Regions from separate parts of the Homo sapiens genome. Here regions 1, 3, 4 and 5 are each linked to region 2. Evidence: fine-mapped expression QTL. A gene starts in region 2. Each other region holds a variant in brackets. All regions are shown on one strand. Distances are from middle to middle.

What was found. PIP is the estimated chance that this variant, and not a neighbour inherited with it, causes the effect. A credible set is the group of variants that fine-mapping cannot tell apart.
Region 1: its variant is the best candidate, but not a certain one, in a credible set for the expression of DPY19L3 in whole blood (TOPMed, PIP 0.68).
Region 3: its variant is the best candidate, but not a certain one, in a credible set for the expression of DPY19L3 in sun-exposed skin (GTEx, PIP 0.52).
Region 4: its variant is the best candidate, but not a certain one, in a credible set for the expression of DPY19L3 in whole blood (INTERVAL, PIP 0.58).
Region 5: its variant is the best candidate, but not a certain one, in a credible set for the expression of DPY19L3 in whole blood (INTERVAL, PIP 0.74).

Annotation. Positions count from the first base shown.
Region 1 is chr19:32,500,792-32,505,898 of GRCh38, forward strand. No RefSeq gene overlaps it. Among named protein-coding and RNA genes, the nearest start is that of PDCD5, 78 kb to the right of the region's middle. The variant A/G (reference allele first, on the strand shown) is at 2,176.
Region 2 is chr19:32,403,029-32,408,135 of GRCh38, forward strand. It overlaps DPY19L3 (dpy-19 like C-mannosyltransferase 3), which reads left to right and starts at 2,742. Exons shown (of 19, transcript NM_001172774.2): 1 at 2,742-2,881. DPY19L3-DT (DPY19L3 divergent transcript) reads right to left here and starts at 2,511. Exons shown (of 3, transcript NR_046201.1): 1 at 1,963-2,511. RefSeq lists silencers at 2,294-2,343, 2,374-3,123.
Region 3 is chr19:32,479,517-32,484,607 of GRCh38, forward strand. DPY19L3 (dpy-19 like C-mannosyltransferase 3) reads left to right here. Exons shown (of 19, transcript NM_001172774.2): 18 at 883-1,041; 19 at 2,563-5,091. The coding sequence ends at 2,724. Among named protein-coding and RNA genes, the nearest start is that of DPY19L3, 76 kb to the left of the region's middle. The variant G/A (reference allele first, on the strand shown) is at 2,355.
Region 4 is chr19:32,462,024-32,467,130 of GRCh38, forward strand. It overlaps DPY19L3 (dpy-19 like C-mannosyltransferase 3), which reads left to right. Exons shown (of 19, transcript NM_001172774.2): 13 at 1,343-1,465; 14 at 1,846-1,957; 15 at 2,705-2,761. Among named protein-coding and RNA genes, the nearest start is that of DPY19L3, 59 kb to the left of the region's middle. The variant A/T (reference allele first, on the strand shown) is at 2,477.
Region 5 is chr19:32,488,926-32,494,032 of GRCh38, forward strand. No RefSeq gene overlaps it. Among named protein-coding and RNA genes, the nearest start is that of DPY19L3, 86 kb to the left of the region's middle. The variant C/T (reference allele first, on the strand shown) is at 2,756.

The sequences.
Region 1 (5,107 bases), 98 kb after region 2:
CCAGGCTGGTCTCAAACTTCTGACCTCAGGCGATCCACCCACATCGGCCTCCCAAAGTGCTGGGATTACAGACGTGAGCCACTGTGCCTGGCCCATTTTTTCTTTTTAATAAAAGTCTTTAGGCCAGGCACAGTGGCTCATGCCTATAATCCCAGCACTTTGGGAGGCCGAGGCCAAAGGATCACTTGAGGCCAGGAGTTTGAGACCCCCCACCAAGCAATGTAGTGAGACTCATCTCTACAAAAAAATAAAAATTAAAAATTAGCCGGGCATGGTGGCACATGCCCATGGTCCCAGCTACTAGGGAGGCTGGGGTGGGAGGATCACTTGAACCCAGGAGTTCGAGACTACAATGAGCTATGATCCCACCACTGCACTCTATCCTGAGTGACAGATGGAGACCCTGTCTCTAACAACACAAAAAAGTTTTTAGTCTGTTTAGAATTTAATTTAATCACTGACAGATACATTGGAGTCTACATACACTGTCTCACTGTTAGTTTTCTATTTGACCTGTTTTATATTCAGTTCACCCCTCTGTAAGCTTACATACTCTTTAATATTTTTTTCTGATTTTATGTTGAAATGGTGTCGAATTTATAGAAAAGTTATAAGAATTATAAAAAGAACCCAGATTCACTGATTTTTAACATATGACCATATTGGCTTTATCATTCTCTCAGCAGATTGATAGTTACAGGAAAACATTTATTATTATTTCTTCTGAATTATTTAGGTATATGCTGCATATATCATACCACTATGCCCTTAATTTTTCAGTGATTATTTCCTAAGAATAAGGGTATTCCTTTATATAACCACAATTATTTTACCAAATTTAGGAACTTTAACATCAACATGTAATAATCTATAGATCTAATGATGTAATCTAATGATATATATCTAATTTATAATATATATTCTAATGTAGTTAATTGCCCACAAAATGTTTATTATAGCAATTATTTTTCCAGTAGAGAATCCATTTTGGAATTGCATTTAGTTGTCAAATCTTTTTTTTTTTTTTTTTTTTTGAGACAGAGTCTTCTGTCGCCCAGGCTGGAGTGCAGTGGCACGATCTTGGCTAACTGCAACCTCTTCCTGAGTTCAAGCAATTCTCCTGCCTCAGCCTCCCGAGTAACTGGGATAGCAGGCACGCATCACCACTCACCCCTGTAATTCCAGCACTTTGGGAGGCCAAGGCGGGCGGACCAGTTGAGGTCAGCAGTTCGAGACCAGCCTGGCCAACATGGTGAAATCTCTCTCTACTAAAAATACAAGTCTTTTAAGTCTCCCTTAATCTGGAACAGTTCCTCAACCTTTCTTTGTCTTTCCTGAAATTTGTATATTTGAAGAATACAGACCAGTTATTGTATAGAATCTGCTACATTCCCGACTGGACTGCTACATAAATGATACTGTGTCCTCAGGTATCACACCTGGAGGCCCATAATATTCATGTTCCCTTATTCAATGATACTTTTTTTGTTTTTGAGATGGAGTTTTGCTGTTGTCACCCAGTCTGGAGTGCATTGGTGCAATCTCAGCTCACTGCAACCTCTTCCTCCCGGGTTCAAGCGATTCTCCTGCTTCAGTCTCCCAAGTAGCTGGGATTACAGGCATGCACCACCACGCCTGGCTAATTTTTCTATTTTTAGTAGAGACTGGGTTTCACTATGTTAGCCAGGCTGGTCTCGAACTCCTGGCCTCAAGTGATCCACCCATCTCAGCCTCCCAAAGTGCTGGGATTATAGGCGTGAGCCACCAAGCCCAGCTTCAATTGTTATTTGAACTAATTATTTGTCCTTCCTTTTAATCGTGGTTGTTACTCTTGTGAAATAGAGTTGAGTTTATTGGTTTCAGTTGGCATTTAGAGTTTTTCCCCATGTATACTGATCTAATTTTATTTATTTATTTTTACTATTTAGGACATTAACATCATGTAAGAGTGAAAACAATAAAAAAGACTCAAAGAATGTTGCTCCTTCCTCATTCCTGCTATCTCATCCTGCTCCTCTTGTACAGAATCCCTTCTTTTTTTTTTTTCGCTCTGTCTCCCAGGCTGCAGTGCAGTGGTGCAATCTTGGCTCACTGCAAGCTCCGTCCCCTGGGTCCAAGCGATTCTCCTGCCCCGAGCCTCCTGAATAAGCTGGGACTACAGGCGCCTGCCATCAC[A/G]AATGGCTAATTTTTGTATTTTTAGTAGAGACTGGGTTTCACTATGTTAGCCAGGCTGATCTTGAACTCCTGGCCTCAAGTGATCCACCCGTCTCAGCCTCCCAAAGTGCTGGGATTACAGGCATGAGCCACCATGACCAGCCATATATAATCCTTTTTATTCATTTCTGATTTACCCATTCTTTGTTTCTTTTTGCAAAAATCCGCTGATATGCATGTTTTATTATTTTTTTATTATATTATTTTCCATTTTTCTTTACACAAAATGAATATATTCTTTTGCACTTTTTACTTTTTGATAATATAATTATATATTATATAACTTATATAGTTATATATAATCATATGTAACATATATGATTATATCATATATGACATATGAATATATAATCATATATAACATATAAATCATATGTAACATGATTATATAAATAATATATAACATGATTTATTTAATATGTAACATACAGTTATATATAATCATGTAATTATACTATAATTATAATCATAATATGTTATACCATAATATATATATTATATATGTAACAATATAGTATAATTAAATTATTATATCTTACATACTATGCAATAACATACTATAGTATATAACTATAATATATAGTATAGTATAGTATATAGTATAGTATGTTATACCATAATATATATATTATATATGTAACATAATATAGTAGAGTTAAATTATTATATCTTACATACTATAACATATATAGTATACACTATACTATAACATATACAGTATAGACTATACTATAACATATATAGTATAGACTATAACATATATAGTATATAACTATACTATATAGTATAGTATAGTATATAGTATAGTATATAGTATAGTATGTTATACCATAATATATATATTATATATGTAACATAATATAGTATAGTTAAATTATTATAATATATCTTACATACTATACTATAACATATATAGTATATAACTATACTATATAGTATAGTATAACATATATAGTATATAACTATACTATATAGTATAGTATAGTTATATAGTATATAACTATACTATAACATAATATAGTATAGTTAAATTATTATATATTAGCATTCCATGTGGGTCCATAAATACACTGTTGTACAGATGTTATGCCCATTAACAATTATTGATATGATTGATCTCAATGCTCTCACATTGTTCTAATTACAGCGTGTATTATATTTACCCTGTTTCTCTATATGATGTATAAGTATCTCACATTCTACAATTATTTTTTATATTTTGGAAGCCTCATATTTTGTTTCACTGATTACCTTATTTATACCTTTGATGTTCTTCATTCAGCATAAACAAGAAAGCTCATCTGTTATCTACTCAACAATCATCGGTCATAGTCTACTTTTCTCCTTCTCCATTCTGCTCCAATTTTTAGTTGCATTCTTTCCACTTTGTCAGAAAATATTCCGTTTACATACTATTTCTCCACCATGTCTCCACTTGTTGTAAGTGTCTCATAATTACCTGAAGTGATAGAGCATCATTTCTAGGTACTTTGTATTAAAGATGGATCTTTATTATAAACTCACAGCCTCTCTCTGTCCCTCTCCCTGCCTTTCTCTTTTTCTCTCGGCATTTGTGCATGAAATATATATTAAACAAAGTACAGCTGCACAATTAAAAAGAAAGAAAAAAGAAACAACATATGGGATAAATGGAAAAGAAAGAGCAACATAGAACATCTAGAATTAAACTTATCAATAATTATATTAAATGCAATGATCAAAACTACGATTAAAAGGCAGATATCATCACATTGGATACAAAGCAAAACTTTAAAGAAGCACACTTTGAATAAAAAGGCATGGGCAGGTTTAAAATAAGTAGGTGCCGGGCACAGTGGCTCACGCCTGTAATCCCAGCACTTTGGGAGGCCAAGGGGGGTGTATGACCTGAGGTAGGAGTTTAAGACCAGCCTGACCAACATGATGAAATCCCATGTCTACTAAAAATTCAAAATTAGCTGGGCATGGTAGTGCATGCGTGTAGTCCCAGCTACTCAGGAGGCTGAGGCAGGAGAATCATTTGAACCTGGGAGGCAGAGGTTGCAGTGAGCCAAGATCACACCATTGCACTCCAGCCTGGACAACAGAGCAAGACTCCATCTTAAATAAATAAATAAATAAATAAAATAAGTGATGACACTAACAGTACAGGCAACAAAAGAAAAAAACAAATTGGACTGCATGAAAATTTAACATTTTGTACATTGAAAGACACTATCAGTAGTAAAAAAGCAACCCCACAGAATGGAAGGAAATATTTTCAAATCATACATCTGATAAGGGATTAATATCCAGAATATATAGAGAACTAAAATGAAGAAAAAAAATTCAAAAATGAGCAAAGGACTTGAATAGACATTTCTCCAAAGAAGATCTACAAATGACCTACAAGCATGTAAAAAGATACTCAACATCACTAATCTTTAGGGAAATGCAAATCAAAACTACAGTGAGATACCACCTCACACCCATTAGGATGGCTACTTTCAAAACAAAACAAAACAAAAAACCACACACACACACAGAAAATAACAAGTGTTGGTGAGGTTGTGGAGAAACTGGAACTCTTTTGCAATGTTGGTGGGAATGTAAAATGGTGCAGCCAGTACAGACAGCAGTATGACAGTTCCTCAAAAAATTAAGCAATGAATTTCAGCAATGAATGGGTACTTCTGGGTAATACCCCCCCAAATAGAAAGCAAGATTGCAAAGAGATATTTATACACCCATGTTTACAGCAGCATTGTTTATAGCAGCTACAATGTGGAAGCAATAGTATCCATCAACAAATGAATGGAAAAGCAAAATGTGATATATTGATACAATGGAATATTACTCAGCCTCAACAAGGAAGGAAATTCCGCAGTATACTGCAACATGGATGAACCTTAAG
Region 2 (5,107 bases):
AATTATCTGGAAAACTTCTGTACTAGTCCATACAGCTATACATACTGCTATAAAGGATACTGCTACAAAGAATGCCCAAGACTGGGTAATTTATAAAGGAAAGAAGTTTAATTGACTCACAGTTCAGCATGGCTGGGGAAGCCTCAGAAAACTTACAAACATGGCAGAAGGCAAAGGGGGAAGCAAGGCACTTTCCTCACAAGGAGGCAGGAAGAAGTGCTGAGCGAAGAGGCAAGATCCCCTTATAAAACCATCACATCTTGTGAGAACTCACTATCATGAGAACAGCATGGGGGAAGCTGCCTCCATAATTCAATTACCTCCACCTGGTCTCTCCCTTGAAAGGTGGGGATTATGGGAATTACAATTCAAGATGAGATTTGGGTGTGGACATAAAGCCTAACCATATCAACTTCTTAAAGATTAGTGGTCCCCTAGCCCTACAGATTCTAAATTGAGTAGGCGTGGGGTAGGGCCTGATAACATGCATTTCTTAACAACCTCCCAAGTGATGGTGACAGTGACGCTGCAGATCCCCAGACCACACTTTTGAGATGCACAGCACAACTATTTGTGGCCCTGGCAGAGACAACCAGGGAGACTATTTAGGCTTCTAAACCTACTGCAAACCGGAAGTCTTGCTATATACCACCACTGCAGTCACAGTCCATTACAGGAGCCCATTCCTTTTATAGTACCTCCCTGGCTCCGGGCTCATATGGCCAGAAGTGTGAGCAAGGACCTACACTCATTATCCATCACCTCCATGGTTACTTTATCAGAACCAAAGACTCATTCTTAATTGGCTTATTCTCCCCAAGACTTACTCTCAGCAGTAGGTCCTACTTAGGAAAAGTCTCAAAGCTTCATCTTGCTTAGGAATGTCTTTTCATAGTATTAAAAAAAGCAGCTACTGCTGAATTCTACTTTCTTTTTAACTAAGCGATGATATTTCACAATGGTCACATTTCCCCCAGAGTGAAACAACTTGAGAGAAAAAAAAAAACCTATAAAATAAGAGGGAAATCCTATTTAAGGGGAACTCAATTCACCTATGTATTCATGAAACAGACACATGCACATAAAGGCATCTTAACGTGAAAAATAAACATACAGTCCTTGCCCTCAAGCCAGGCGACAGAAAAGCTACCAACAACCAGGCTGAAACAAGACAAATGCCATCTGAAAAAACAGCTGACATTTGTTTCTATCAAAGCCATCCAGCAGATACCTCAACATCTTTCCACAGAACGTGTGCTCTTTACTAACAACCGACACACAAAGGAGGACGATCTCCAACAGAGGTGACTAGGAAAGGCTTCCTGGATGGCGTAATTTAGTGTTGGAGTCAGACCAATGAGCCGCCTTTTCACGGGTGGAGGTCCCAGATGGCCATCCCTTTAACAAAAATCAATTAACATGTAAATTATGTACTGACAAATACAACGTTTGATGGGCCCGCTGCAGTGGCTAAAGCCTGTAATCCCAACATTTTGAGAAGCTGAGGCAGGAGGCCTGCTTGAACTCAGGAGTTTTAGACCAGACTGGTCAACACAACGAGACCCCATCACTATAAAAATTAAAATGAATCTCAGCTACTCAGGAGGCTGAGGAAGCAGGGTCACTTGGGCACAGGGGACTAAGGTTGCAGTGAGCTACGATCACACCACTGCACTCCAGCCTGGACGACAAAGCAAGACCCCCATCTCTACGAAAAATTTAAAAATTAGCTGGGCATAGTAGTGCGAGCCTGTGGTCCCAGCTACTCCGGAGGCTGAGGCGGGAGGATCGCTTGCGCCCAGGAGGCCGAGGTTGCAGTGAGCCGTGATAGCACCACTGCACTCCAGCCTGGGCGACAGACTGAGAGCCTCACCTGTAAAAAATAATTTTAAAAAAGGTTCCACCTAGTGTTTTCCGTGGTGTGACTAAGAAAAGTATCTAGAAATAAAGCACAGTCAGTACCTGCTCTCAAAAAACGGCTGCCAATCTAGTTTGGAGACAGAAAAATATACCCGACTGAGAACACAGAGGAGCCTGTTTTCGGAAGAGGGGCGTCTTTGGAGACGCAAAATCCTCTCCGCGGGACGCTGACGGGCAGTCGGTAAAGGACTTCCAAGCACTGGTCAGTGACAATCGGGCGCTGGGGCTTTGCCAAGGCCCGGAGGCGGCGCGCCAAACCGGGCAATGCGGGAAGCGGGGCAGGCCCGAGTGGCCCTACTGCTGCCGTCCCTACTGATCCCTGCGCATCCGCCACAGAGCAGGGAACGGCAGAAAGGAGGAAGGAGGGGGAGTTCCGTAAATCAGGCCCTCAGGGGCTCCCAGGCCCGCACCCCTCTCAAGCCCCGGGGACCACCGCGGAGCCGCTGCTCCGGGCCGTGCGGCTCGAGGCGAACCTGCCTCAGAGCCGCCGGGCCCTCCTATCCCGAGCCGTATCTCTAGCTCCGGCCTGAGGTGGCCGGCGACTGCGTGCGCAAACACAAGATCCGCACCCCACTCCCCGCCACTGCAGCTCCGCGGCCGCGCTCAGAGTCTCCGGAACAGACCGGACTCAATGCGGACCAGGCAAGCGGAAGTGTGCCGCTTCCTTCCGGCCAGCGCAGCACGAGACGAGGCGGGGAACCGCGGGAGGAGGCGGGGCCTAGTGTTGACGAACAGCTCCCGGGGCCTATGGGCGCGGGGGCAGCCGCCCGGCCTCTCCGGCGCGCCCCCTCCCCGGGGCTGTTGACGCCCCCCAGCCCCTCATTTCCACAAAGCTCCGCGGCGGTTCTGCCCTCCTTGTACCCGCGGCGCGCTGCGGCCCGTGGCGCGGCCCCGTTCCCGCCTAGCCCCGTCGGCCTCCTTCCCCTCCCGGAGCCGCGCGTGAGGACGGCTGAGGCCGCAGGTCTGTGGCGGCGCGCCGGGACGCGCGGGCGAGGGTCTACCGAGAGGGCGGGCGGGCGCCGGCGGAACCCTCGGCTACAGCCCCGAGCCCCTGGGGCCGCCCCTCCCCGCCGCGTGGCGCAGTCGGGGGGCGCGGCCGCGGCGTCGGGGCGTCGGGAGGGGCGGAGCGCGGGAGTGTCTGCCGGGACGCGGGCCGGGCTGGGCTCCGGAAGGACCAAGTTTGCGGAGCGGCTTCTGCTCGTCGGCCGTGCGGCGAGGCAGGGCCTGGGCTGCGACCCCGGCGGCCGCTCGCGGTCTTGGGAGAGCTGGGGCGCGTGCCTGAACTTCCCGGCTGCCCCTGTCCTTGGAGACCTACCTGATGGGGACGCCAGGTGTGCAGGGGCGTGGCGCGTAGGTAAGCGGACCCGGTGCCTGCCTCGTCCAGGGGATGCTCACTAGAGCGCTAGGCTTTTTTATTTTTATTTTTTAGAGACAGGGGTCTCGCTGTCTCGCCCAGGCTGGAGTGCAGTGGCGTTATCACGGCTCACTGCAACCTCGAACTCTTGGGCTCAAGCGATTCTCCCACCTCAGCCTCTGGAGTAGCTGGGACCACAGGCATGCACCACCGAGCCTGGCTATTTTATTGTATAGATAGGGTCTCGCTCTGTTCCCCAGGCTGGTCTCAAACTCATGGTCTGAAGTCATCCTCCTGCCTCAACCTCCCAAAGCGCTGGGATTACATGAGCCGCCTCGCCCGGCTAGCGCTAGTCGTCCTTATTAATAAAGAATCGCTTCTGGTCCCTTTTCAGTTGTTTACAATGGCATTCCTTTTGATCTGATGGAGGAACTTTTTTTCTTAGTTCATGGGACTGTTGCAGTGCCTGACACATAATTGGTACTTAAATATGTGTTGGTTTTCTGCCTTAACATATTAGAATATATGAATTGTTTAAAAAAGTCCTCTCACACTTAGGGAGGACTCTAGGATGAGGTCACATGGGGGATAAGCCCATCTGTGGCTGTAGGACTTTGTTAAACACTCCTCTTCTCCCTCTCTGTTCCAGATTCTCCATTTCCAGTGCTTGAAAGCACAGTACTTAAATCTGGCTTCCTGCTTTTTTTTTTTTTTTTGGTATGAATGAATACATGAATTGTATAATGTTAGTTGGTTTGTTCTGTAGAGCAAGTTACCCTTAGGAATTAATAAACTGTGGAAACAATCATGTCAGGCTACTAGTCACATTTAAGAAATAATTAGTAAGAGGCTGTTCATTATTCAGAGGAGTGAAGCAAGATGTTCTGGAGGACTGGAACCCGCTTACTCACTGCCACCACTCCCCCGCCTCCCACTTGCTGCTGCCAAACCAGGCTCCTGCTCCCCCCCACCCATTACTCCCACCGACGCTCCCTGGGATAGCAGCTGCCCTGATTGGCACACCCCCGCAGTCATCACCACTGAGGCGTATTCCTGAAGCTGCCAGTGTGAATTGTTTTATAGAACACTGGTGTTAAAATTCAGGTACCTGAGACAAAACAATATTTTAATTCTTCAAAATCCGGTTGTCAACACATTTACTATGGAGTATCTCCCACGTGGCCACTTCTGTGGGAGGTACTGAAGACCTACTACCGCCTATGGAAGTAGAAAATAATATACAACTGTGTAGTTACGTGACGCATTGCGTGGTAACTGCTATGGCTCAGGGAGGGAGAAGATCAGCCGGAACTGGAATGTCCCAAGATGTTCTGGAAGAAAAGCAGTGGCTCGTTTGTGTTGCTTACCTGTATTCCTGACTCCTGGCAGGGCCTGCTGTAGAGCACATGCTTCATGAATAAATATGATTGAGTTGAATAAATATTTGAATTGTGTTTTGAGTGTAGCTTTGAAGGCCAGCAACGATTTAGATGGCAAGATCGAGGGCAGGCTGGGCACAATGGCTCATTCATGTAATCCTAGCACTTTGGGAGTCCAAGGCGGGGAGGATCGCATGAGGCCAGGAGTTCAGTACCAGCCTGGGCAAGATAGGGAGACCCCATCTTTACAAAAAATAATTAGCCAGGTGTAGTAGCACATGCCTGTAGTCCAGATACTCGGGAGGCTGAGGTGGATCACCTGAGCCTGTGGAAGTAGAGGCTACAGTGAGCCGTGATGGTGCCGCTGCACTCCAGCCTGAGTGACAGTGAGACCCTGTCTTGGGGGGAAGAAAAAAAAAGGGAGGGCATGCTAATAGAGGGAAAATGGCATAAG
Region 3 (5,091 bases), 76 kb after region 2:
ACAGTTGTCACAGTAACAGCATCCTACCTCCCTACCATTTCACCCATCCATGTGGACACATCAAGTTAGACCCTCAAGCCCAAATCAGAAATCTAGCACTCGAAATCAGGGTGCAACAAAGGAGGCAGTGCCTCTCTTCATGAACCCCCACATTCAACACCTCACACAGCCTGTTTCCATTCCAGCCCCAGAATCTGGGACGCTCAGTTTGCATCCATCCACTGAGGGTGTGTGGCACTGGTATGAACGTGAAGGGGGCCTCCTGTGGCGTTGCCCACGGTGTGCTGCAAGTGGCTCTCACCCCTAGGATGGACGAGAGGGAGAGGAGCAGTGGGGTCTCTCAATTAGCTGAGATGCGGAGTAGCAGGTAAAGCAGCCAATGCTGCCCCAGCCTAGGAGCAGAGACCCTACAGGGATCCTTCTCCCCACCTACCAGTTTCAGAAGCTGGGGCTCTGCCTTATTGGGACGTGTGTCCCTCAGACTGTCCCATCACCCTTAATGGGCCATTTTAGTCTGGGGGTCCCCTTTTTAAAGGTAGAGACTGTGTCTTATTTACTCAGCCCTGTCATTTACCTTGGGAAAGCAGTCTTAGAATTGGTGCCTACTGATGAATATAGTCCTGACTTGAAGTAATACATTCTGAATCCAGATGTGTTCTTCCTGGCTCACTCTCTTCCCAAGGCCGAGCACTCACAGCGTTCTGGGAACTTCCACGCACACACTCCAGGCCTGCAAATGAGCGAGTGCAGCGTGGCCTGGGCTGGAGAGAGCACCTTGGGTGTTAGGTCTTAGACTCAGCCCTGTGGAAGGTTACATCACATAGTTAACTCCCTGGCAGTCAAGTAGCATTTGCCACATTGCATTTTTATGTCTTTTTGAAGGTTTATCAGATATATGCCAAGAGGGCACCAGAGGAAGTGCATGCCCTCCTAAGGTCCTTCGGCACTGACTACGTAATCCTGGAAGACAGCATCTGCTACGAGCGGAGGCACCGCCGGGGCTGCCGACTCCGGGACCTGCTGGACATTGCCAACGGCCACGTGAGCATGCTGCCTCTCCCTGTGTGGGGGTCTCCTGGAGGGGCGGGACTCTGATTTGAATCCTAAGAATGTGAATCTTTTTATCCTTAATGTCTAGTTGAATTACGCTACGAATCAAGTATTTGCTTTTTCTCTTGCTTCCTACAGAAGCCCTCTCTTGGCACTTTAGTGACTGCCACCGGGGCTGGGCAAGGGAGAGGTGAGAGGGGAGCCCTGGGTCCCCAGTGTCACACCAAACAGAGCAGCTCTGCCTTCAGCTCATTTGTATGATGGGGCTCTGCATAAAATGTATCTGTGAAGGATTTTGCTGCTATAAACAAAACCTCAGCCTTTAAACCCACTGCTCCAACGCTTCGTATTGGCTAGCTGCTGCATGGCAGGGATGGTGGGGCCCTCCTGCCCTCCGGTCTAGGTGGTGGATTCCCCCTACCCCTCCTGCCCTCTCCTACTGAGTGTCCTGTGTCCACTGGTGTGTTTCCACAGGCCGGCTTTCAGAGGCTAAGTTGCACTCCAGAGCAGAAAAGCAGCAAGCCGCTTCTCCCTTCTCCCTTCTGAGGAAAGTGTTCTTGGAGCTATGCCAGGTCTCAGTAGAGCAAACAGATTTTCACCCTTTAGAGGTGTGATGTGTGCTGTAATTAATGGTATGAAAGCCAATAGATATTTGTAAACAAGTTGGACAAAGTGACAAACCTAGCCTAAATTTGAAAAAAAAAAATCTTGACTGTACAGAATTTGAGATTCAGATTTTTGCCCGAGGAGAATCATAGTTCATAACTGTCTTGAGTTCAGAGGTGGTACAGACCAGAGACATCCATTTAAATTTTGATTTGAGCGTGACTTTTTCAGTTATTTATTTATTTATTTATTTATTTTTAGAGACAGGGTCTCACTCTGTCACTCAGACTGGAATGCAGTGGCGTGATCTTGGCTTACTGCAGCCTCAACCTTCCAGGCTCAAGTGATCCTCCCACTTCAGCCTCCCAAGTAGCTGGGACCACAGGCATACATCACCATACCCAGCTAATTTTGTTTATTTTTTGTAAAGATGGAGTCTGGCTATGTTGCCCAGATGAGTCTCAGACTCCTGATCCAAGCGATCCTCCTGCCTCAGCCTCCCAAAGTGCTGGGATTTCAGGCATGAGCCACCACGCCTGGCCTAAATGTGACTTTTTCTGATGAGTTAGAGAGCTTTCTCTGATCACTGTAGTTCTCTGTATTTCATTTCTATGAGAGAGACAGTATAGTATGTTCCTGAGAGCAAGCAGACCTGAGTTCTAGTTCTGGCTTTCCCGTTAATGGGATCATCGTGTGAC[G/A]CTGCACTCTCCTTCTCAGCCTTGGTCTGCACTTCTGAAGGGGGAAAAGGATGGCCCTGATGATCTCCAGGTGCCCATGGACATTGAAATAATATAATTTAATTTCACTCACATACCATTCTTAAACCCAATACCCATTCCTGCTCCTACTGTCTTTTGTAAATAGAATTTTCCCCCCAAATTGTATTTGGGTTTGTTTTGGTTTTAGATGATGGATGGCCCAGGAGAGAATGATCCTGATTTGAAACCTGCAGACCACCCTCGCTTCTGTGAAGAGATCAAAAGAAACCTGCCTCCCTACGTGGCCTACTTCACCAGAGTGTTCCAGAACAAAACCTTCCACGTTTACAAGCTGTCCAGAAACAAGTAGCGCAGATTTCTGCCCAGTGTCTATTTTTGATACGGAGAAACTGCATCATGATGAAACTCAATAGATGACGTTTCCTATGTAAGTAGGTAGCCCAAACCTTCAAGCTGTGATATGAGTAAGTTCTACAGATGTTTACACAAGTGTTGCCATCTTTGAAAGCATCTTCTACAAGCAGAAGTCTTTTTCGTTGTGTGTCTATCTTTCTCATTAATGTTCTTTAGCCTAAATGTTAACAACTTTCTAAGAGTGACCTAGAATTATGTTGTTGGAGAGAATGATGTGTGTTCCATGGATACCTGGATAGGCACATAACATGTTGGAAGATGAGCACCTGCTCAGGATTTGAAATACGTTTAATTTTCAGGTGACTTAAGACAGCTATGATTGAATCAACTAGAGATGATGATCGACTTATTTAATATGATTTCACTGGTGAAGACCAATTGGTAGCTTTTTAAAAAGCACTTTAGTGTCCTGTTTTACCTTAAAATGTTATAATATTTTCCAGTTGTCATGCTGTCAACATTAACAAAAAAAATCATGTTAAGGCTTTGTATCAAACATTTTGTTACACTCTGTCTGAAATGTAATGTGGAGTACTTCAGCAGTATGTGTCATGTATTGTGTGTGTCTGTGTGTGTGCATGTGCACACATGTGTTTTAATGCTGGGCACAGAAAAGTGTTACAAGTTCCATATCGTAAGTCCTTAAAGGGGCAGAAATATATGTAGCCAAGTAGAATTTATTACATTTTAGTGTTATTATTTTAAAACTTACTGATACTCTTTAACCTCTCCTGCAGTAATAGTTTTGCTTTATTTCTTACTCATTTCAATTTATTGGGTTTGCAAAATTTTGTAAACTTTTTGTGTTTTTAGCCTTTGTATTTTTTACAGCCTAGAATCTTGCAAAGTCTGAATATTTTTTAAATGTTCTATCTTAACTAGTTCACTAATACAGTATTTTTAGCAGACAGCATTTTCAGACAGCATTTTCATACCAAGTTTGACTTGTGGTCTCCAATCTTACTGGGAAGGCCCTGGTAGTGTAATTCTTTTCCTTATTAAAAGGTAACCAAGTGCCTCTAAGTCATGCTTATTTGTAAACAACAAAGAAGAGTATATGTACCTGCTCAAAATTTTTTTGATAATCGCTTATATAATTAATTTCTAATGATGAGGACATGTAAAAGTTGCCAGTAAGAACATAGTATGCATTTAATTAAATCAAGATGGCTAATGGAATTAACTTTCTCCCCTGTTCTTGCCAGGTGGAAATGATTTAAGCATTTCTCCTTGCAGTTGTATTGAAGTAAATTACCATAGGCATCAAGATGGCTGCATCACATTTTCAAATGATTTTATATTCAGTTGCTACTTATAAAGCAGCATTCAAAAAGTCTTTTACACTGTCATGTTGGACACAAGCAGACTCAGCTTTTATCAAAACTTGTTTAAATAAAAAATTGACAGTAGCTGGGTTATTAAATTATGCAACTGAAACTCCTGAATTATATCTTTTCTGTATCCCTTAATAAGATTGGAGACCACTGCCGTTTAGGATAATACAATAATAAAACGTTTTAATCAGTACTAAAACTTTAATTAAGCCAATAATGATGCATGCCTGTTGTAGCTGACAGCATGGGTCAGTACATCCTTCAGCGAGTGCCTTACTCTAATTGAAACCAAGCACACGTAAGGTACAATATGTTAGACTCTGTGATTTTGTTTTCAAAATCCTCTGTTATGGCTATATTTAAATTTATTTTAAATATTCCTGTATGTATTCATCTAAGCATTTGGGCATTTGGAGTCTTAATATACAAGAAACACGTACTTAAATTTTTATGCTTATCACCGCAATGATGGCAAACAGTGATTTTTTTTTTCATAGTTTAGGTGTCATTGTTGCCAGCACCTTTAGTGCTCAGTCTTCAGTGAAAAATATAAAGTGCCAAAAAAATCTTGCAAGACAGAATCCATACTTAACACTCTTTCCAAGACACTGTGACCATGTACAGTAGCTATTTCCTGATGACCAAATCTCTCAACGAATCATGTTATTAATAAATATTTTTAGCACTCATCAGTATTCTCCAATGTGACCTTCTCATTGGAGTACACAGAAGGAAAGCAAAGAAGAGCATCTGACTTCTAGCTCTGGCTTACAGCCTCTCTACCAGGCCGAAGCAAGAGACCCGCGGCAGCAGCTCCCCGCCACTCAGACCTGGGTGGTGATAACCTCAAAGAATGGCTCTGTTTTCTATTGACAGAAAACCCACTTGATTTTGCTTCTGAGTTAGCAGTCAGAAGACCCTCTAAGTACAATAGAAGTGCTCTTAACGGACTCTGCCTGTGTGACTCC
Region 4 (5,107 bases), 59 kb after region 2:
ATACATATATCCCTGTGATAAAGTTTAATTTATAAATTAATCATGGTAAGAGAATAACAATAATAATAAAATACAACAATTATAGCAACATGCCAGCATCACTTCTCTTGCACTTTGGGGCCTTAGTTATGTAAGATAAGGGCTGTTTGAACACAAACAATACAGGGACATTTAAATGTATCTTACTTTATTAGTAGTTTAGTAGCTGAATGTATCTGCTTGTCTGTCTCGGGTAGGTGGGTAGACTATACAGCGTGGAAACACAGGACCAAGGGATGATGATCTGAGTCTCAGGTGGGACAGACAGGGATGGAGAGATTTCATCATGCAACACAGAATAGCATGTAATTCAAAACTATGAATGGTTTATTTCTGGAATTTTCAATTTAATATTTTCGGACAGCAGTTTCCTCAATAACAAACCACTGAAAGTGAATCCACCGATAAGAGGGGACTACTGTGCATCATAACCCCGTGAAGTGTTCTTGCCAAAAAAATGAACTTGTGTCTGATAAACCTCTAGATCTAATTACAAGTTTACAAGAAGCATGAAACGTATAACCACCACTGTGAGCCACACCTGGGAGACGGGAACAGCTTCAGGACATATGTTCTCTATTCTTCCACAAACAAATGGCCTGTTTTTTAAAAAAAGGAGATACTTTTATAGATCAAAAGATATTTAAAGATATATATTAGTGAAATGCAACATGCAGTTCTTAGATCCTGATTCAGAGAAACCTGAAAAAAGCAATTGATGCAAACAGGGAAAATAGAACATGAACTAGGTATTAGATGATGTTAAGGAATTATTGTTACTTTTATTGGGTGTAATAATTTTAATGTAGCCGTATTTGGTAAAAGTCATCTTTTGGATATCAGGAGGTATTGGTAGGTTAAAAATGTGATTTTTGAGGGGTCATAAAGGAACTGAATTCCAAGTTAATGGATGTGTGTTTTGCTTTTGCTTATTTGTAAAAATTTGAAAAATACTCATAATAACTGGTAAAACATCTTTTAAAAATCTCTTTCAATTTCAGCAATTCCAAAAAATTTGAGTTTTTTTTTTTGCATTCTCTTTTAATTTAAAGAATTGAAGCACTTTAAATTTTTACTTCAAAGCTGCTGTGAAATTTCAGTTTTTCTCATTATTAATGCATTTATATTGTTACACTTTAGCCTCATAAATTCAAAATTGATCAATGCGAATTCATTTCATCTTATGGAAATAATCAATTTCTGAATACATAAAGGCATACATTTCTTGTATCTTCTTCTTTTACAAAGATCTAACTAAAATTATGTTTCCAGCTTAAATTTTGTATGTTGCTGTTTTACTCAGTGATTCTACAAATCAACAATCCGTGGGTAAAATGGAAAAAGGCACAGTTGACCTGAAACCAGAAACTGCCTACAACTTAATACATACCATTCTGTTTGGATTCTTGGCATTGAGTACAATGAGGTATTTTTGTCTTACCTGTTTGTTTACTTTTTATTTGATCACTCTTGATGTTACTTAGCAATATAATTTGGAAAGTGACAATCATCTTCATTAATGATCATGGTTCCCATAAAATCATCCTTATATCCTATCTTCTCTCAGTATAAAATACTCAACATCAGTTTTTACAATTAATTACAAACACGCCTCTATGTTTTACTCAAAGCATAGTCTTGAAAAGGCAGTGGAGTTAAACAACGAACCCTTCGGCAAATGGCATCTGCATAGTTTTAAGTAAGATTTTGCCGTCATAGACTGTAAAGCTGCCTTTATAGGTGTCTCAGAATCCAGGTTTATATACAACTAGTACTTCTGACTTGCGCCTGTGTCTGTTCTTGCAGAATGAAGTACCTCTGGACGTCACACATGTGTGTGTTCGCATCATTCGGCCTATGTAGCCCTGAAATATGGGAGTTACTTCTGAAGTCAGTCCATCTTTATAACCCAAAGAGGGTCAGTGTCATCCCTTTTTCCATCTCCTTTTATGACTTGCAGTATTTCTTTCATACCACTTCTTTTTTTGTTTTTCAGTAGCTGTGAGATAAAATGGATACTGAAATTGAAGCTGAAAATACATAATTGATATATTAAGATTTTATAGGGAATTATTTTAAAATAATTTTATTTTAAAAAATTACTTTTTTCTCAGACTATAAGTTAGATATGTTCATTATACAGAATTTGGAAATACAAAAAAAAGCACAAAAGGGGAATTAAAATTACCAATAATCCCCTTGTCCGGAATTATAACTGTTGTTATTATAATGTATTTTCATAAAGATAATTATTTATATATGTATGACAATTTTTCAGTAGCCTATAAATGCAGTTTTGAATTGTTCTACTCCATAAATTCACTAGGTGGCAATATAGTAGAAGCTGCAGATATCTTACAAATGATTAGAATCCTAGTATCGACTCAGTTATTCTGCATATTGGAGACTTGTGCTCCATTAAATTATATTTCTGGTA[A/T]TTTTTTAAGGCATATATTTACAAAGCAAAACTGTAAGGCAGAAGTGTTTAAAAAAGCCGGGCACAGTGGCTCACTCCTATAATCCTAGCTGCTCAGGAGGCTGAGACAGGAAAATCACTTGAGCCCAAGAATTCCAGGCCAGCCTAGGCAAACATAGCAAGACCCTGTCTCTCAAAAAAGAAAAGGTTCAAAATACTTATAATCTAAATAATGTCTTTCTTATATAGATATGTATAATGCGATATTCAGTACCGATATTAATACTGCTGTATCTATGCTATAAGGTAAGACTGATTTTCCTCATTCTTGTCATTCATGTATTTAGCAGAATAATTGCTTTGATTCAATATATTTTGTGTATTATTTGGCAAATAGAGTGGTTTGTGAAGGTTATAAATACCTCCTTAGCTTCTTACTGAAGGTGACATTGATGGGAAAATGGATCTTTTTCCCAAATAGTTTTAACAAGTAAAAACATGATAGCGAAAACTACTATAGCATTTAATAATTCTAATTAATTTTGATTTAGACTCTTAATATTCAGCTGATGCAAATTCTGAAAATAAGGTGTTTTCAGACCTATTTTGAAATGAAAGTAGGAAAATTATTTTCCCATTACCTGATTTATATAGACTAAGAGATTTTTAAATGTATCTTACTTTAAGCTCCATATTTTATTAGATGCTTATCTTCATAAGAGAATTAGACACATAAATAAACACAGCCTAAGGCTAGGCTTTTTAAAATCTGTTCTTCAGTATCAATAGGAAGTATCTGGATTTTTCATATTCTCATTTGACTAGTTTCTGAAACAGCATGAACTGCCCTTTAATTCAGAGAATTTCTTATCAGAGACAATGATCATTGGTCAGGTTGACTGTGGCTTTTTGTCACATCTTTGACATTGGCAGTCTTGAATCATCACTAGGGCAGATAGCACAGACTGTTTTATCCAATTGAGCTTCTGCCCTCTCTTTTTAAAGAACCTAACATATTAAGTTTATATTTTTTTTCCTTTAAATTTTACTTTAAGTTAAAACGACGGATTTCAAACTCTACTGTGTAGAACCCCTGATTTGGGAGGGTGGCTAAAAGCAGGGGTGATGGGACCTCCCGCAGAGAGGATCAGCTAGAGCAGCTCAGCTTTGGGGTTTATTTGCTTATATTTTCATGTAGGATTTTGTGAACCAAAGGTTTCAGGCTAAAGAAAATATTGCTAAATACTATATTGTAAATATTTCAAAAAAATGTGTTCTGTTATGAGCCTGTCTATCAAAACATTTACCATTAGCAAAACTCTGTGCTAACTCCTAGATATTAAAAAACACACAAATAGATTTATGCCTCCCCACCTCTGGGAATTTTATTGCTCTAATGCGAATAACTGAAACTTACTAAAAACATCTAGACACGAACAGTTAAGGATTAAACAGTATATGTTACTGAGGAGTCCTGTCAGTTTACCTTTACACAATGATTCAGTGGATTAAAGCACCCTCCTCACAGAAAAGATAAAGCTCATGAATGTTTTTCTCACCACTGAAGATGTACCGAACAATAACCATCTTTCATACTGCCCGTGTGCATGTAGGTTCAGTTCTTTTATGTCTCAGCTATCTATTGAAATTTTACTGATTTTTTTAAGCTATTTGAGGACTGAGGTGTTTTGTTCGTAATAAAATTGAGGAAGGACATTGTATAAGAAGTAAACTGTCCTAGGGAGCATTGATTCTTGAAGCGTGGTCCTCAGATAAACAGCATCAGCGTCTCTTGGGATCCTGTAAACATGCATGTGTTTGGGTCCCACTCCAGACCTACCGAATCAGAAGCCTGGGAGTCCAGTACAGAAATAGGCATTTAACCAGCCCCCCAGTTTTAAGAACCCCCTGCTGTAGCGGTCACAGGGTTTCTCAGCAGTGGCACATTGACACTTGGGCCAGAGAATTCTTTGCCGCTGGGGGCGGGGGCGGTCCTGTGTGCTGTAGGCTGCTCTGCGGCAGCTTCAGCCTCTGCCCGCTCATTGAAGCACGTCTCCCCTGGCTACAACCAAAAATGTCACCAGACATTGCCAAATGCCCTGGGGCTGGGGCTAGGGGCACAATGTCTCCCCTTACTCATCTTGAAAACCACTGCTATAAAAGAACTGGGACAGCTAAAGAAGCCATCATCTCCAGGAAATCCTGTTGCAGGTTTTCCCTGAATAAGGGAGTTAGTATCCTGAGGAATCCTCCAAAAGACTGTTGGCCTAGTCTCTCTTGATACAGGAGTTTAGGAGAAATCCTAATGCATTCAGCTTTCACTGTATAAAATAGTTCAGATATTTCATCTCCACAAAACTTACATAAAATCACAGAGAAAATTAAGATGGTATGGGTATGAGGGGTTACCCTGAAACTGAATCTGTTTTCCAACTATTCCAGCTCTTACAGACTTACCTGTAAGTAATGTGAATTCATATATTTCAAAGCCTGATTTCAGTTTTACATTGCAATTGTAGTTAGAGTTTCAAAATTTCTTGTTCATACTACCAATTTTGCTGTATTTCTCTTTAGTATAAGCATATTAAAAGGGAAAAAAGCATGTACTAGCCTGCACTCCGAAGTCAAGACTTTAGTAAAATTAGGACGTTG
Region 5 (5,107 bases), 86 kb after region 2:
GTTTTAAGAGTTTTTCGGCCGGGCGTGATGGCTCACGCCTGTAATCCAGCACTTTGGGAGGCCGAGGCGGATGGATCACAAGGTCAGGAGATTGAGACCATCCTGGCTAACATGGCGAAACCCCATCTCTACTAAAAATACAAAAAATTAGCCAGGCATGGTGGTGGGTGCCTGTAGTCCCAGCTACTCAGGAAGCTGAGGCAGGACAATGGCATGAACCCGGGAGGTGGAGCTTGTAGTGAGCTGAGATCGCACCACTGCACTCCAACCTGGGCAACAGAGCGAGACTCCGTCTCAAAAAAAAAAAAAACAAAAAGTTTTTCACCTGGATTAAGTCAGACCCACCCAATATAATCTCCATTTTTGTTAGCTCAAAATCAGCTTGTTTGTGACCTGAATTACATCTGCAGAATCCTTTCGCTTTTGCTATATAGCCTCGCCTAATTACCTAAATAGGAGTGGCATTTATATTCATAGGCTCATCCACACTTAAGGGGAAGGGCTCTGCAGGGCATGTTGTTCAGGCAGTGGGAATCTTGGGGGCCATCTTAGAATTCTTCCTACCACAGACAGTTTAAAAGAACAGGGTCTGGGCCAGGCATGGTATCTCACGCCTGTAATCCCAGTGCTTTGGGAGGCCAAGGCAGAATGATCACTTGAGGTCAGGAGTTCAAGATTAGCCTGGGCAACATAACAAGACCCCATCTCTACAAAATATATTTTTTTCAAATTAGCCATGAGTGATGGCACACACCTGTAGTCCCAGTTACTCAGGAGGCTGAGGTGGGAGGATCCCTTGAGCCTAGGCGTTTGAGGCAGCAGTGAGCTATGATTGCATCACTGCACTCCAGCCTGGGCAACAGAGCAAGACCTTGTCTCTTAAAAAAAATGTAAAAATAAAAGAATAGGGCCTGGCGATAACTGAGTGGCAATGGTTAACATAGGGCTTTTGTAAACTTTGACAGAAAGGAGAAACACAAGGTGAATCCCAGGGTTACCCAGGCTTTCTCCCTTAGAGGATTTTCCAAACTGTGGCACAGGAAAATGGAGCCCAAGCAGAGTATGTCAGGCTTTCTGGAGGAAGCAGATTGGAGTTGATAGCTGCTGAGGTGGCTGGGGTTTGGCAGGGGTTGGAGGGGCAGAGCACCAGAGAGGAGGGAGTTGGAATAAAGAAAACCTAAGAATTTCCCATTGGGTCCTTGGTCAGTTCCTAGCCTGCAGAGGCTTAGCAGAGAACATCTGGTCAGTGGCAGAGCTGAACAGAAATTTCAGAGGTTACACAATCCCGAGGAGACACTGGAATTTGGGTCCAGCTGGGGCTGAGAGACCACGGTCAATCTCCCAGGCATTCAGCTGAGACTCTGGAGAGACTATACCTTATCCTGGGAGTAGAGGCTGTTATCCCAATTGCCTGCCAGAAACAAATGTAAATCTGCTATGAAGGATGATAGCCTTATTCATGGCTTCAAATTGTCTTTACACTTTTTATATACACAATGTAGCACTCAATAAAATAATCAGGAATAATTTTTTAAAACTGAGACCAAGTGTGGTGGCTCACACCTGTCATCCCAGCACTTTGGGAGGTCGAGAAGGGAGGATCACTTGAGCCCAGGAATTTGACAGCAGCCTGGACAACAAGGCGAAACTCTGTGTCTACAAAAAATACAAAAACTGGCCGGGCGCGGTGGCTCACGCCTGTAATCCCAGCACTTTGGGAGGCCAAGGCGGGCGGATCACGAGGTCAGGAGATCGAGACCATCCCGGCTAAAACAGTGAAACCCCGTCTCTACTAAAAATACAAAAAATTAGCCGGGCGTAGTGGCGGGCGCCTGTAGTCCCAGCTACTTGGGAGGCTGAGGCAGGAGAATGGCGTGAACCCGGGAGGCGGAGCTTGCAGTGAGCCGAGATCCCGCCACTGCACTCCAGCCTGGGCGACAGAGCGAGACTCCGTCTCAAAAAAAAAAAAAATACAAAAACTTACGTGTGGTGGCATGCGCCTGTAATCCCAGCTACTCAGGAGGCTGAGGTGTGAGAATCACCTGAGCCTGGGATATCAAGGCTGCAGTGAGCCATGATCATGTCACTATACTCCAGCCTGGTGACAAGAGTGAGAGCCTGTCTCAAAAAAACAAAAACAAAAAACATGACTGAAACAGAATTGAAGTAGAAACAGTGCCACAGGCAAATCAAATATTGCAGCCTGAAGCATAGACTTTAAAATAACTATGTTTATCATATTTAAGACTTTAAATGACAAGAAGGAGAATTTAGGTGAATAACTGAAAACTTTATAAAAGCAAAATGGAAATGCTAGAACTGAAAAATGCAATGAATTAAGTGTTCACTGTTGGGTTAGACACAGCTGAAGAGAGTTGATCAACTGGACAATAGGTTAGAAGAAAATATCCAGACTAAAATATTGTGGGCTGGGGAGAAGTTGAAAAACAAAGGAAAGGCTGTGTGTGGTGACTCACACCTATAATCCCAGCACTTTGAGAGGCCAAGGCAGGATCGGTTGGGCCTCAGGAGTTTGAGACCAGCCTGGGCAACATAGTGAGACCCGTTTTTTTTGTTTTGTTTTGTGTCGTGTTATGTTGTTTTGAGATGGAGTCTCGCTCTGTTGCCAGGCTGGAGTGCAGTGGCAAGATCTTGGCTCACTGCAACCTCCGCCTCCTGGGTTCAAGTGATTCTCCTGCCTCAGCCTCCCGAGTAGCTGAGACTACAGCTGCCCACCATGCCCAGCTAATTTTTG[C/T]ATTTTTAGTAGAGACAGGGTTTCACCATATTGGCCAGGATGGTCTCGATCTCTTGACTTCATGATCTGCCCGCCTTGGCCTCCCAAAGTGCTGGGATTACAGGCGTGAGCCACCGCACCCAGCCCTGTTTTTATTTAAAAAGAAAAAGGAGAGCATGGAGTATATTTTGGTATATTTTATGCCATTCTATAAGTGGTACTGGAGTCCCACAAGGAGAGGAAATAGAATGGGCCTGTATGACTTTGGGCATGCTACTCATATTCTTAGCTTCATGTCTTCTTTTGTAAATGGAGGTGTAATCATAATATACCTATTGGTTTGTGGGGTGGATTAAATGAGATAACATTTCAAGCACTAGGCCCAATATCTAGCACATGGTAAGTACATTAGATGAAAGCTGCAGGATTATTATCACAGTCGTCTTCAAAATTAGAATGTGAAAGAGAAAAGCATGAAGAGCAAAGTTACAGGTGAGTCTGACAGATACTAAAGAGCCCTTAGTAATTTTATGTTAACTATTCTTGCTGTAGAAAATATCTTTAAAAGCAAAAAGAAAAAAAAAAAGAAAACTTCAAGGACTGAGGAGGAGATTAAGAGAACAGTTTTATAGATAAATTAGTTTCTTAGTAATTCCTGAGGTGTGTATTTGCAACACAAGGAAATGGATTTGTGTTTGTGTCTCTGTGCGGGTGAGGAAGAGAGACAGAAAAATAGAGCCATGGACAAAGACCAAGAGAGACTGATTGATTGGATGTTCTTAGAGGAGACATTATCATTGTTGAAGATAAATGCCAAAGCCCTGCCAAGGTGCACATATTCATAAAGAAGTAGAAGGGGCTGATTGTGCGTGAATCTGCTTAAGAAAGGGAAAGGAGTGAAGGAACATGATTTCAGGACTAGCCCGGTAATTAGAACTGCAGTGAGCTAATTAAGGCTCATAAATTTAATGAAACTATTAGCATTTTCTCTTGCAAGAAAAGGTATATGTTTTCTCTCAGGAAATGACACCTGTGAACAATTATCTCTCATTTCTATTAAGATTATTTACATAAGTTTTGCTCATTTGGCACTCACTGCTGTTAATTATTATTTTTTATTTTTTACAACACCTGATATCACACTAGATTCACTCTGTAGGAAGGTGCTTTGGGGGTTACTGATAATTAATAGTTTAGCACAAATAGACAAGACCATTGTTAGGGGACCTGCTGTACTGTTACTGTGCTGTCTTTGTGGGCAGCCTTTTTGTTTAATAGAAAATGTTTCAGAATCTTTGAATATCTGTAAGAGCCTGGTAGATTATGAAAATTATGAACACAACCTTTCCTAGGCCATCATGTAACTCAATGGTTTCTTCAGTGAGAACTTCCTGAGTACCTACTGTATGCCAGAGGAAGAGGTGAGAAAAGGGCGTGAGGATAGGTTTATGATATAAACATGAATTCAAAATATCCTATTATTGCACTGAATTGAAATGGATATGATGACCTCTAAGGGAAAGCCAAGGGTGTATCATTTAGGAAATTTCAAATTGCAAGTGTAAACCAAAAGTATCTGAGATAAGTCTTCATTTAGAAAGTTTATTTTGCCAATGTTAAGGACACACCATGACACACAGCCTCAGAAGGTCCTGATGACATGTACCCAAGGTGGTCGGGGTGCAGCTTAGCTTTATACACTTTATGGAGACACGAGACATCAGTCAGTACATGTAAGATGTACACTGGTTGAGTCCAGAAAGGTGGGACAACTCAAAGTGGGGGGCTCCCAGGTCATAGGTAGATTTAGAGATTTTTCTGATTGACAGAAAGAGTTACTGTCAATAGAAAGGAGTGTCTGAGTTACAGTAAGGGACTGTGGAGTCCAAGGTTTTATCATGCAGATGAAGCCTCTAGGTAGCAGGCTTCAGAGAAAGTAGATTGTAAATGTTTCTTATCAGACTTAAAGAGTCTGTTCTATCCATAATTCCCAAAGTACGGAGGGTGTAATGAAGCATGTCTAGTTCCCCCTTCCCATCATGGCCTGAACTAGCTTTTCAGGTTAACTTCAGAATGCCTTTGGCCGAAAGAGGGGTCCATTCAGGTGGTTGGGGGGCCTTAGAATTTTATGTTTGATTTACACAAGTTTCGGAAAACCTAACCCAAGTTGTCTTACATAAAGGGAATGTTTTAGCACATTTAACTTTTTTAGGCCTTTAGGTAAGGCTTAATCTGATATCCTAGTAATTAGATTTATTCAATTAATATTTGTTGAGACCTAAAAGGCCTTGGGAATACATTAGTGTCTAAGACATTCCGTATTCTCATTGAGCTTACATTTTAGTAGAGGATACAGACAACAGATAAAAAAAT